Regions from separate parts of the Homo sapiens genome. Here regions 2 and 3 are each linked to region 1. Evidence: fine-mapped expression QTL. A gene starts in region 1. Each other region holds a variant in brackets. All regions are shown on one strand. Distances are from middle to middle. Region 1 holds the start of ADCY1 (adenylate cyclase 1). Region 2 overlaps ADCY1 (adenylate cyclase 1). Region 3 has its middle 180 kb from the start of RAMP3.

What was found. PIP is the estimated chance that this variant, and not a neighbour inherited with it, causes the effect.
Region 2: its variant is the best candidate, but not a certain one, in a credible set for the expression of ADCY1 in lung (TOPMed, PIP 0.63).
Region 3: its variant is the best candidate, but not a certain one, in a credible set for the expression of ADCY1 in aorta (GTEx, PIP 0.57).

What each region holds. Positions count from the first base shown.
Region 1 is chr7:45,572,327-45,576,565 of GRCh38, reverse strand. It overlaps ADCY1 (adenylate cyclase 1), which reads right to left and starts at 2,198. Exons shown (of 20, transcript NM_021116.4): 1 at 1,384-2,198. The coding sequence starts at 2,022. RefSeq lists a silencer at 1,713-1,812 and an enhancer at 2,624-3,184.
Region 2 is chr7:45,687,020-45,691,258 of GRCh38, reverse strand. All of the region lies in intron 14 of ADCY1 (adenylate cyclase 1), which reads right to left. Among named protein-coding and RNA genes, the nearest start is that of ADCY1, 110 kb to the right of the region's middle. The variant A/G (reference allele first, on the strand shown) is at 1,825.
Region 3 is chr7:45,338,617-45,342,855 of GRCh38, reverse strand. No RefSeq gene overlaps it. Among named protein-coding and RNA genes, the nearest start is that of RAMP3, 180 kb to the right of the region's middle. The variant T/G (reference allele first, on the strand shown) is at 2,403.

The sequences.
Region 1 (4,239 bases):
TCAGCCTTTAGCCATCCTTTTGTGCCTCTGCCCTTCACCTCTACCTCTCTTCCTCTCTTCCTCCGACGCCCTCTTTGACAATTCTCCATGTACTCCTGCCTTCTTCCCTCCCGCCCCTGCCCACGGGTTGAGCACATGGTGGTCTCTCTCTGACCCTAAGACACAAGTCCAGTGATGTGTCTATCCCTGTGCCAGGTTGAGCATCTCATGGCTCCTCTGACTGTGTGCTGCCCCTGGCATCACAGTCTAAGGATGCCTCCTTAGATCCTTGGGTGCTGGTCCCCCGGGGCCGGGCTGTGGGACTCCTTACCACCGCCCCCCAGTTATTCTTCCCTAATCTCTCTGGATTCAGCTTCCCCTCCGACCCCTTACCTCTCCCCAGTTTGCTCCCACCACTGCTTCCTTTCGTGAGATGGGCTCCCCCACTCCATTTGAGTCATACCATCCCCCTGCTAAACTGCAGCTAGAGGCAGAAACAAAACCCTCCTCAGGGTCTTCCAAATCTCCCCACCCCCCAACTCCCCAGCCCCATCCCTGCGGCCCGTTGGAGATGGGCACAAGGGGAAGCTCTCAAAGCCCCGCCGTGGGGCAAAGACCTCTGGTCCACGTCCACCTCCGGGCAGTTGGAAGAGCAGGCTCCTCCAGGGCCCAGGAAGAGTCCGCGGGAGGCAGACAGCGTCCCCGTCCTTGCAACCATCTCGCCCGCCCGACTGGGAAGACAGTGACAAAGTTCGGGCGCAGAAAAGGCAGGGTCAGGGCAACCGCCGAGTGGCAGCGGCAGGGACTAGACTGTGTTTGACCTTGGCAAACCCCACTCTTTCTGGGCCGGAGGCATGTCCACAGAAGGGTGGCCAGCAAGGCTGGAAGAGCCGAAGTCCTTTCCCACCACCCATATACCACCCTCGGGTCCGCAGGGTTGGGAGGCGAGCCCAGCACGCGCTCTAGGTGCGCAGGGGAAGAGCCCAGCGCTGCGCGCAGAGCCGGCCTTGGAGCTTGCCCTGGGGGTCTGCTCTCCTCGCCCACTTTCAGTCCCTCTGTGGGGATGGGTGCGGCAAAAGACCGGCGGACCCCTCTGGCCGCCGTCTGGCCGCTCATCAGCTCCCTGACCTTGGCCAAACCTTTCTCTCTCCACACCTGTCTCCCCTCTCCACACTTCACGCCAGGGGCGCTTCGTGGATTGTAACTCTGAAGAGAGCCCTGGCCGGAGGGTGCCAGCCCCGACTGCGTCCCCAACTCGTAGGAGTGACCTTGAACACACCCCCACTCGGAGCCTCAGTGTCCCCACCCGCCGCATAGGAAAAAGCGCGCCCGACTCCGGGCATTCCCAGCATCGTCCCAGCAAGTGTGTCCGAGACCAGATGAGGGGTGCGCGGCTGCACTTACCGTCCTCCAGAGACGTGGGCGCTTGGCGGGGACCAAGGTGGCTGTGACCAGCAAGTGCGACGCAGCCACCACGAGCCCAAAGCCTATGGCCAGCAGGCTGCGCACGGGCAGCAAGGCATAGGACACGAAGGTGACCAAAAGGAGCTGCCAAACCCCTTGTTCGGCGGTCGCTGGCCCCCCAGCGGCCCCGGCGGAACCCCGGGCGGGGCCGCCCAGCGCGAAAGGACAGCAGAGCAGCGCGAAGGTGAGGCTGAAGAGCAGCGCCAGCTGGCCGACCTGCTGCAGCTGGGGCACCTGCAGGGACCGGACGTTGGTTACCACGAGCAGCGCCAGGAAGAGGACGCAGTGCACCGGGTGTGAGCCCTTGGCCAGGCCGGGCGCGGGCCCCGGCGCGCCCAGCAGCTCGGCCAGCGCCAGCGCGCCCGCCAGCAGGCTGAGAACGGCCAGCGCCTTCAGCGTGGCCGCCTGCTCCAGCCGCAGCGTGTAGCCGCGGAACAGCGCCTCCAGCTCTGGGCAAGCGAACTCCTCGTCGCACGCCCGGAGCCCGCGCCGGCGGCTTGTCCCGGCCGCCCGCTCGGCGCCCCCGGGCTCGCCCGCGCCGCCTCCGCCGCCGCCTCCGCCGCGCGGCGCCCCCGCCATCTCAGCGCCATGCAGCGGCCGCGGCCGCGGGCGCGCCCCTCGCCGGCCCGGGGCGCCGGGGCGCGGGCGGCGGCGCCGGGGCGGGCGGGCGGCGGGCGGCGAGGCGCCGGGGCGCGGGGCGCGGGGCGGGCGGAGTTGGGGCGCCGGCTGCCCCGCGCGCGCGCCCGGAGCGCGTCCCCTCCCGCCCGCCGCGCCTGCGCACTGGAGCCCGCCCGCGCCCCGACCGTGGTCCTCGGCGGCGACCGCGCTGCGACAGCCGAGCCCCGGGAGCCGCGAACCTGGGCGCGCACAGCCCGCGCCCCAACTCCGCGTCCTGCGTTCCCGCCCGCCGGAGGAGCCGCGTGACCTCGAGTACCTTCCTTGTCCCCTCCGAGCCTCAGTTTCCCCACCGTGCACAGTGGAACCCACCCTCTTGGCGTCACCTGGGGAGTCGAAAATACTGAAATCCTGCGAAATTCCCTGTTGCGGGGCAGTTAATCTTGGAAAATATGTGCCTTCCCCCACTCAATAAAACCAGGCCACTAGATTTGAGAGGGGCCCGCGTCTGACTGCGAACCCAGGGCCCTCGCCCCTACGAGACGGAGAATCGACGTCCAAGAATCCCCGGGGTCAGGAGGAAGGTGGAGGCCTGGGGCGTACGTCCCTTCCATGCGCATGAGGGACCCCCCGCCCCTCGGCAATTCTTCCCTAAGCTCTAGGGTCGCGGAGACCCTGTGGGCGGGTGCGGGCTGCGGGAGCTGTGCTGGGGAGGCGGCGGTGGTGAAGTCCAAGAAACAAAGTCCTGGGAGTCGGCCCGAGGGATTCCTCCTGGGTACTGAACTGAACCAGGATGGGCTCCTGGCAGTGCTGTGTCCCGGGAAGAAGGTGTGAGGCTGTAGGTGCAGAAATGGGGCAAGAGATGAAAGGAAAAGGGGCGCTGCTGTTTGCCTTAACGATTAGCTGGATACCCGAGAGAGAGCGAAACGTTTTCTTCTAGCAGGACAATTGGGAGGGAAGGACGCTGGCCCATGGGGGTTAAAACCCGCGAGTCGAATTCCACTGCTTACATTCATTCACTATGAGGGAGACAACTTTGTGCTGGTGCTTCAAGTACATGATGTCATTTGGTGCTCAGACGGCCCCTGGGCTGCCTGCATCCCCCTTACAGTGAGGATCTCTCATGATCAGCTCCCTCCAGGAGGCCTAGAGAGGAGTAGCCACTGCAAGAACCCCTGCCTCCTCCGTTATCCCGGCTGCTTCTCGTCCCCTCAATATGGATAGACCAGGAACTGGGATCCCATGAAATAATGGAGACCAGGAGGCTAGGCCCCCTGCAGAAGGCCCCACTCCCAGAAACCAGGATTTAAGGGATCTCGCCCAGGCATTGGTCTATTTTAGAAATGCCCCAGGGATTCCATTAACTCTCAGGGATTCCACGTGTTGTTATACGGAACAAAGGTTAGAATTTGAGGCATTTCCATTTTATCTGGAATTGGTATCAGGTTGAACCATACAAAATTGCCGTTTTTGTAAAAGGGCCAAAGTTGTCACATGTCAGCTCTTTCATATGCTTCAACTTAATAGTTGCAGATGATGACACCTCTAGGCTTTGTCTAGAGTAGGGGCACTTTCCCATCCCATGTCCCCAGTAGCTCACACCAAAGGCCCCCAGCAGACACTTGATGACAGCTGGTCCCTCCTCCTGGAATAGCATCCCCAACAGAACATCCTTTCTGAAACCTTTCTGGCTCCTTCTGGCACAGCTCGTTGCTTTCTCCCCAGTCCCAGTCTTCCGTGAAAATTCATACCCACCACTCTGTAGCCTCATTTTCTGTTCATTTGCCTTCCTCCCCTCTTTGAGCTGAAGCCCTCAGAGGGCAGCACTGGCTCTGAAAAGATGGCATGGCCCAACCTCTGTCACTGACTTGAGAAAGCACCTTCTTCTATCCACTAGTCCCCTGCTTATCCCCAAATAGGAGCAAAGTCTGCAAGATTTTTCTTTTCAAGTGTTAAGATTGAAGTGAAGATTTTCTTGTTAACTGGTGTGGTATATTTTTGGATCCTAACAATTTATTAAAGAAAAGCTGAATAATATCCAAAAAGGATCAAACTACATGAAAATGAAAAAGTATGATAAAGTTAATCTGGGTGCAAAGTTTACAAATAAATGGCACCTTCTTTTACCTGTTTTGGCTCTCAACTTTGTCCTCACTCAAAAAATGACATTCAGACAGGTGC
Region 2 (4,239 bases), 110 kb before region 1:
GCCCGGGCTGCCCCAAGGCCCAGGAATGCATATTCTAGCCCTAAAATTACTGGTATGCTCATTGGGCATTGCTAGGGGGTGTCACTGGATGGAGAACGACATGGCAGGGTCAAATACTGCATTTAATAACATTTCAAAGAACAACAAAGCCAAGAAAAAGCCATGTCAACCCAGATGAGAGGAAATGTCTCTCCCAGAAGTGTCCCTCAACTGGAAGAGTCATAGCCAAGGCCCAAATCTGCTGTCTGAGAATGAGGAACCAACCAGGCACCCTAGTAAATAACCTGGAAACCCCAGATCTCATGGGCCTGGGCTGTTCCAGTTTTTCTAGCTCATCCCAAGTCCATTCTTCTCAAGCTCTGAGTAGGTTTTTGCAACAAAAAGATCTGAACCCAGAGAGGCCAGCTGATGGCTGGGTCAACATATCCTCCCAGACCAGCCAGCTGGATCACCCTGGATAGCCAGCCAGAGCCAAACTAAGACCAAGTTCAGCAACACAGCCCATCATAAAGAGGCTCTTTTCCTATTACCTGGTGTGGCTTTAGCAAACTGCAGCTGGCCAGATCTCCCTTCCAGGGCAGGTATGTGCTGTATCTGGCCAGATCTCCCTTCCAGGGCAGGTATGTGCTGTATCTGCAGTCCATTCCCCACCGGTTCTGTACCAGGGAGGCCAGTCCAAGGACTCTACCAACAGGGTCCTGGGCCTCCTACTTCCGGCCAGGTTTGGCCAATGGGGAGCGGGAGCAGGGGCCAGTAGCGAGGGAGGAGAGCATTCCCAGTTCCTCTTTGCATGGTTGCTGCGGACTGGCTGCGTCTCCCGGCTGAAGGTGGTGAATCCTATCAGGCAGCCCTCTCTGTTCCCTGGTTCTAGGGCCCATTCCCACTGTGGCTGCCCCAAGTGCCACACCAGCCTGGAGATGCCCTGTGCCTGCCCCTGTCTTTCAAATAGTCCAAGCATCATAAGGGCTCCTGAACTCACCCCCTTAGAGTGTGCCCTCCGCTCTCAGCCCAGGCTGTGATACATGCACAGCCCCCTGGAGACCCACTCTACCTCCACTACTGCACCCTCACTTGATGGCCAACAGTGGCCAGACTCCACACGACCACTTCCGAGGTGCCCTCCTGCCAGCCCCTGACCATGCAACTTGCTTTCCTCAGGGCCCCTGTGGATCACAGGGCTCCCACCTGCCTCCTGGGCTGTGTGTCACACTCCATTGTCAGACCACCTTTGGAGACAGGGATCGGGTCCTATCGCCCTCCCTTTGCAGCTCCACTGCCCACAGGGGGCCTGGAGGGAGCACTGGCCCCTGTGATTGGACTCTGACTCCTCTCACAGTTTTTGCTGAAGAATTCCCTCTTTCTGCCATGTTCCTCGTCCCTTTCCCCTCAACCCCATCCCTCATCCTTCCATAACCGAATCTGAAGCATCGCACAAGGCCCAGAGAAACACAGTATGCCTGGCTTTGCTTCCTCTCAAACCCACTGTGGCCGCAGTCAGGCCTTCTGGCGTGAGGACTCACTTCCTGCCACAGCCTGCATTCCTCTGGTGATAAGTCAGACTCAGATGTTGATATGGTTTGGGTATCTGTCCCTGCCAAATCTCATGCTGAAATGTAATCCTAGTGTTGGAGATGGGGTCTGGTGGAAGGTGTGTGGGTCAAGCAGGTGGATACCTCATGGCTTGGTGCTATCCTTTCTCGCGATAGTCAGAGTTCTCGCAAGATCCAGTTGTTTTAAAGTGTGTGGCACCTTCCCCCCACCCCCTTGCTCCTGCTCTCGCCATGTGACATGTATGTTCATGTTTTGCCTTCTGCTATGAGTAAA[A/G]GCTCCCTGAGCCCTTCCCAGAAGCCAAGCAGATGCTGGTGCCTGTTGGTACAGCCTGTAGAACTGTGAGCCAATTAAACCTCTTTTCTTTATAAATAACCCAGTCTCTGATATTCCTTTATAGCAGTGCAAGAACAGCTTAATGCAGATGTATTTATGCCCCCACCAGGGTCCCCTCCCACTCCCCAGCAGGAATTAGGGCCTGTTCTGCCCAGACAGCCCTGCTGACAGTGAGCGCACCACACAGCAGCACTTCCCCGGGAGAGGCCAAAGGGCGAGGGTTCTCAGCAACCCCTGCCCACTCCAGAACCTGGAATTCAGGTATGCAGTGAAGACAGCGCCAGATCATGAGTCCCTCAGGAATCTGGATCTTCCCCACCTACAAGGCTAGCTCAGAGCTCCATCTAGTAGGACACAGGAATGTCTTCTGCCCAGAACAGGCACTAACTTAATACACAGGCTGAAAAATAAATGAAATGGGAAAATCTACAGACAGCGGGTAGACTGGTAGTTGCCTAGGGTTTGGGGGTTGAGGAGAAATGGGGAGTGTTAACTGATGGGGATGGGTTTCTCTTGAGGGAGATAAAAATATTCTAATATTGATTATAGTAATCGTTACAGGACTGTGAGTATACTGAAAACCACTGTTCACTAAACAAGTGAATTGTGTTATGTGAAATATATCTCAATAAAGCTATTATACAGTGAAGGAAAAAATAAGCCATGTTTTTCACCAAGCATTTGTGAGCACATGTATATAGATACACATATAGACAGTGTGTGTGTGTGATGTATGTATATGTTCTTTCTTTTGCTTACTCAAATCAACAACATAATTTCCATCACTTTAAATATGCATCCTGCCCTGTCATGCTGACATAAACCCACTGAGCTGCTTCTGTCTTTTCCAGATGAATAAAACTAGAGGAAACAATTGTGTTCATTTTTTTCATGAGTGATAACTTGCCTCCAGATGCTCCTCACACCTACCCTTCACCCTACTCTAACCCTCCCTCCCAGAAAGAGATCCCCCCAAAAATGGCTCATCACAGAGTAACAGGCTGCCAGACAAAGGGCTGCTCAGCCTTACCGAGCACCTACTTTGCACAAGGCCCGTGGCCAACGACATCAGGAATAGAATTTCAGTTATTTCTTGCACACCTGGATTAGGGTTCTCACCCCATTTTACTGCTGAAGCAGAAAGACAGATTGACCTATCACTGGTTGAAGTCATGCAGACCCTACATGGAGTTGCTGGAATTCAGGACGAGGACCACCTGATGCCAGGCCCAACCTTTGTTACCCCTGCTACTGCTGACCAGGGTTTCGGTCACTTAACTGCATGGCTTGATGCCCAGTCAGCCTCAGGAACAAAGACAAAAAATTGACAGGCTTCCCAACTCCAGCAGCAAGCCTGGTCCTGCTTCCACAGTGAGCTCTCAGCTGGTCCTGGCCACGCTTCCTCCTGGGCACCCTCTGGGCTGTGCCTGTCTGGTGTCTGTGCCCCAACTCTGGGCTGCACCTGCCTTCAGTCCTGACTGCAGAGTAGGACTAGGGTGAAAATGCTCTTGTCCTGCCTGGCCCCAGACACAGCTCTCTCCACAGGTTCAGAGCCTACCCAAAGATCACACAGATGGCAGCTGGATCCCAGCTCAGCCACCTTCTGGCTGCCCGACTCTGGCATGTTACTTTAGTGGCCCCTGTGTTCTTGTCTGTAATCCCAGCTCCTAGGCAGTGCTGTTCTGAAGACTGAATGAGATCAAATAGCTCCAACAGCGAAGAGCTATTCTTAAGGTGTCAAAATAAGAAGACTATCTCTTGCTAAAGCTAATATTCATCAGCCTTCATTCCCGGTTTTCAGGGGAGGAAACCTAGGAGGAGCAATTTTCCCAGGGTGAAACAGTTTGCAAATTCCACAAATGGGATTTGAACCCAGGTAGCCTGGTCCTAAATGTTTGATTGCCTCACCTCCCGGAGGGCTGTGGAGTATGGAGTTGGTGTGAAGATGCTCACACCAGCACCCACACGCTGCCTTGGCCCCTGGCCATGGGGTGGACACAGGTACACCCCTGCTGTGGCTCCGCAGCAGGAACTCAAGGTGAATATCTGGCAGTCATTGCCAGGATCACATCCAAACAGAAAGCCACCTACAGACTTCAGGAAAGCATGTCTCCTCTCCAGCCTGGTACCCAGATGTTTGGGGCCTGAAGCCAGTTCACATGTTTGCTACTCCATGGAGTCTCCCAAAGAGTGGTGCTTATGCCTCTTGTGTCAGAATTTCCCAGGGTACATGTAAAAATATAGACGTCCAGCCCCCACCTGCTGACCTACTCAATTTGGAGTAGGTGGTGAGAGTTTTGGCATTTTCTTGTATTTCCCAATGACCCCGATGAGACCTGCTGCCACTGCCCAGCC
Region 3 (4,239 bases), 230 kb after region 1:
CCCAGGAATTGTGCTTATGGCATTATGTTTATAAAATTACCACCAAACTTCAGGTCATGCAGATTTTCTTATATGTTTTATTCTAGAATTTTTATGATTTTGTGTTTTACATTTAGATTTTTGGTCTCTTTTGAGTTCATTTTTGTGTAAGGTGTAAGGTCTGTGTCTTGGCTCTCTTTTGTGGGGAGTGGGCACATGGATGCTCAATTGTTCCAGCACCACCTGTTGAAAAGATGATCCTGTCTTCATTGAATTGCCTTTCTGCCTTTGTGAAAAAATCACTTCACTAGATTTGTATCACACTACAGACAACTTAAAATGGCTGGACTTAGGATTTATTTACTTTATGATGACGTGAAAGCTATACACGTTCAGTAGAAACCATACTTTCAGTTTCGAATTTTGATCTTTTCCTGGGCTAGCAATACACTGTGCCACACTCTCTTGTGATGCTGGGCAGCGACAGCAAACAACAGCTCCCAGTCAGCCATGCAGTCATGAGGGTAAACAAGTGACACTCTGCAGAGTCCTGTGTTTTTGAGTACTGATCATCAGAGTACTGATGATTTTGCCCTACTGTGGGCTAAAGTAAGTGTTCTGAACACGTTTATGGTAAACTAGGCTAGGCTAACCTATGATGTTGAATAAGTTAGGTGTATTCAATACATTTTCAACTTACAATATTTTCAACTTATGATGGGTTTATCAGGAAGTAACCCCATTGCAAGTCTGTATTGCTGTTCTCTATTCTCTTTCATTGATCAATGTGTCTATTTTTCCTCCAATACCAAATAGTATTGATTACTGTTACTTTATAATAAGTCTTAAAATTGAGTAAGATGAATATCTTCCAACTTTATTCTTCTTATTTACAATTACGGTGGAATTCTAGGTCTCTCGCCTCTCCACATAAATTTTAGAATCAGTTATTTGATATGTACAAAAAAGGTTGCTGGGATTTTTAATGGGACTGTGTTGAATAGATAAATTGAACTTAAGGTTATCTATTTATCCTTGAGTGAATTTTGGTAGTTTGTGTCTTTCAAGAAATTGCTTTATGTCGTTTAGTTACCAAATACACGGGGACTGAGTTGTTCATCGTATTCCTTTATTACCCTTTTAAGACCCACAGGATCAGTAGTGCTGATACATATCGTTTTCATTCCTTATATTGACAACTTGTGTCTTCCCTCATTTTTTCTTGGTTAGCTTAGCTAGAGATTTGTCAATTTTATTGATCTTTGCAAAAAGCCAACTTTTGATTTTATTTATTGTTTTCCTGTTCTCAATTTTGTTTATTTATGGTCTAATAATTATAATTTCCTTTCTCCTGCTTGCTTTAGGTCTAATTTGCTCTTCTTACTCTAGTTTCCTAAGGTGGAAGTTTAGATTATTGATTTTGGATCTTTTTCATTTCCAATATATGCAGCTTAATGCTATAGATTTATACCAGTCACTTTAGTTGCACCCCACAAAATTCAAATTTCATTGAATTTTCCAGAAATCTCTTCCCCAAAAGAGATTCAGAAACATTTGCCAACTCATTTATAAGGGCAGCACTACGCTAATACCAAATGCCAAAACTAGATAAAAATATTACAAAAAAAATACATTTTAATTTATTTTGAGACTTCTGTTTTGACCCATGGGTTTTAAAGGTGTGTTGTCGAACTACCAAATATTTGGACATTTTTCAACTAGTTTTCTGTTATTCTAGTTCAGTTTGTCTGCAATCTGAAAATATACTTTGTATGATATCTATCCCTTGAAATATGTTAAGGTGTGTTTTATTGCCCAGAGTGGGATCTGTCTTGGTGAATGTTCCATGTGAGCTTGAGGAGAATATGTATTCTGCTGTTGTTGGATGAAGTCGTCTATAGATGTCAATTAGAACCAGTTGATCAATGATGCTGTTATGTTCCACAATGCCCGCACTGATTTTCTGTGTGCTTGCTATATCACCTACTGGTATAGAGATATTGAGGTCTCCAACTAAAATATGATTTCTCCTTTCAGTTCTATCACCTTTGTCTTATGTATTTTGATGCTGTGTTGTTAGGTGCATAAACATTTAGGTCTTCTTGGAGAATTGTCTTCCTGTTTGTGTAATGTCACTCTTTATCCCTGATGATATTCCTGTTCTGTAGTCTGCTTTGTCTGAAATTAATATAGGTAATCGAGCTTTCTTTTGATTACTTTTAGGATAGCATACCTATCTGAGTCTTAATATTCCAATTCAATAAAATCTGTCTTTTAACTGCTGTATTTACACCATTCACATTTCAAGTATTTTTTGGTATAGTTGGGCTAAAATATACAATCTTTATAATGGCTTTTTTCTCGTTTCTTTTTTTGTTTGTTTCTCTTCTTCTTCCCTTTTTTCTATCTTTTCTTGCTTCAAT[T/G]GAATATTTTATATTATTCCACTTTATCTCTTCTTTGGCATATCATTTAAACTTCCATTTAAAACTTTTTAGTGGTTGCTGCAGGTGTTACGATGTGCATTTTTAAATAATTTACTTCCACCTCCAGTAACTTTACACCACATCTGGGATCTTTCTTCCATCTTTTGTGATACTGTGCTCATTCATTTCTCTTATCTATATGCTATGACCTTCCATTAGATTTTTCCTATTATTAATTTAAACGAAGTTATTTTATGTCCATTAAAAATAAGAAAACTAAAATATTTTATTTTACCTTTATTTATTCCTTTTCTGATGTTCTTCCTTTTTGGTATGGACCGAAGTTTCTGGCATATTATTTCTCTTTGGCCCAAAGTTCTTTTAACATTTCTTATAGGATAAGTCTACTGACATTGAGTCCTTCCAGGTCCAAGAAGGATATTTCTCATATCTTCACAATGAGAATCTGGTGAGGTTACTGAGCTAAAGCCCATGTACATGTGGATATCTCCATCTGTCTTAGACCCTTAGGGCTCCTTACTCACCAACTCTGTATTCAGCCTCCCAACTCTATGAAAATGACCATTTAAATGTTGCCACCAGATTATACATTTTGGGAGCTTCTGTTCCAAGTAAGCAATCTTTGATCTTGTATTTCTCTGGATGTACCTGTCTGTCTGGATTTTAAGGTGGTAGTTTATCCTGTTAACTCAGTTATATGATGGGTTCAAGAAAAGTCACAGATTTCAGTTTGTCCAACTTTTTCTTGTTGTAATTGTGGGAATGCTTATTTTCAAGCTCTGGTAATTATCTGTATTTAACTTTTTTTGTTTGTTTGTTTATTGTTCATTAATGGTGACTTATGTCTTTCAGAACTGAAAAACATTTTTTTGCATTATATCATTAATCATTTTTCACTCAACATAATGTTTTTGAGATTCATCTATGCTTTTGCATCTATCATTAATTTATTGCTTTTATGGATGAGTATTATTCCATTGTAATAAATGTGCCACAATTTGTTTATATACTCACCTGTTAATGGATGTGTGGTTGTTTCAGGTTTGGGCTATTAAAAATAAAACTGCTAAGAATATTTTTGTGCAAGGATTTGTATGATCATACAGTTTCATTGTGCCTTGGTAAAAACCTTAGAGTGAAATGGCAAGGTCATATGGTAGTTGTATGTTTAACTTTTTATGCAACTGGTAAACTGCTCCCCAGAGTGGTTGCAATATTTTACATTGATGTGGCAATGCATGAGAGTCCCAGTTTTTTCACATACTCATCATTAACTGGTATGTTCAGTCCTTTAACTACAGACATTCTAATAGGTGTTTACTGGTGTCTCATTTGGTTTTAATTTGCATTTCTTGAATGCATCTTTTCATGAGCTTATTTGACATTTACATATCTTTTTTTTTTTTTTTTTACTTTTTTTTTTTTTTTACTTTAAGTTCCGGGATACATGTGCTGAACGTGCAGGTTTGTTACATAGGCATACATGTGCCATGGTGGTTTGCTGCACCTATCAACCTGTCATCTAGGTTTTAAGCCCTGCATGCATTAGGTATTTGTCCTAATGCTCTCCCTCCCCTTGCCCCCCCGCCGCCCACAGCCCCCGGTGTGTGATGTTCCCCTCCCTGTGTCCACGTGTTCTCATTGTTCAACTCCCACTTATGAGTGAGAATATGCGGTGTTTGGTTTTCTGTTCCTGTGTTAGTTTGCTGAGCATGATGGTTTCCAGCTTCATCCATGTCCCTGCAAAGGACATGAATACATTCTTTTTTATGGCTGCAGAGTATTCCATGGTGTATATGTGCCATATTTTCCTTAT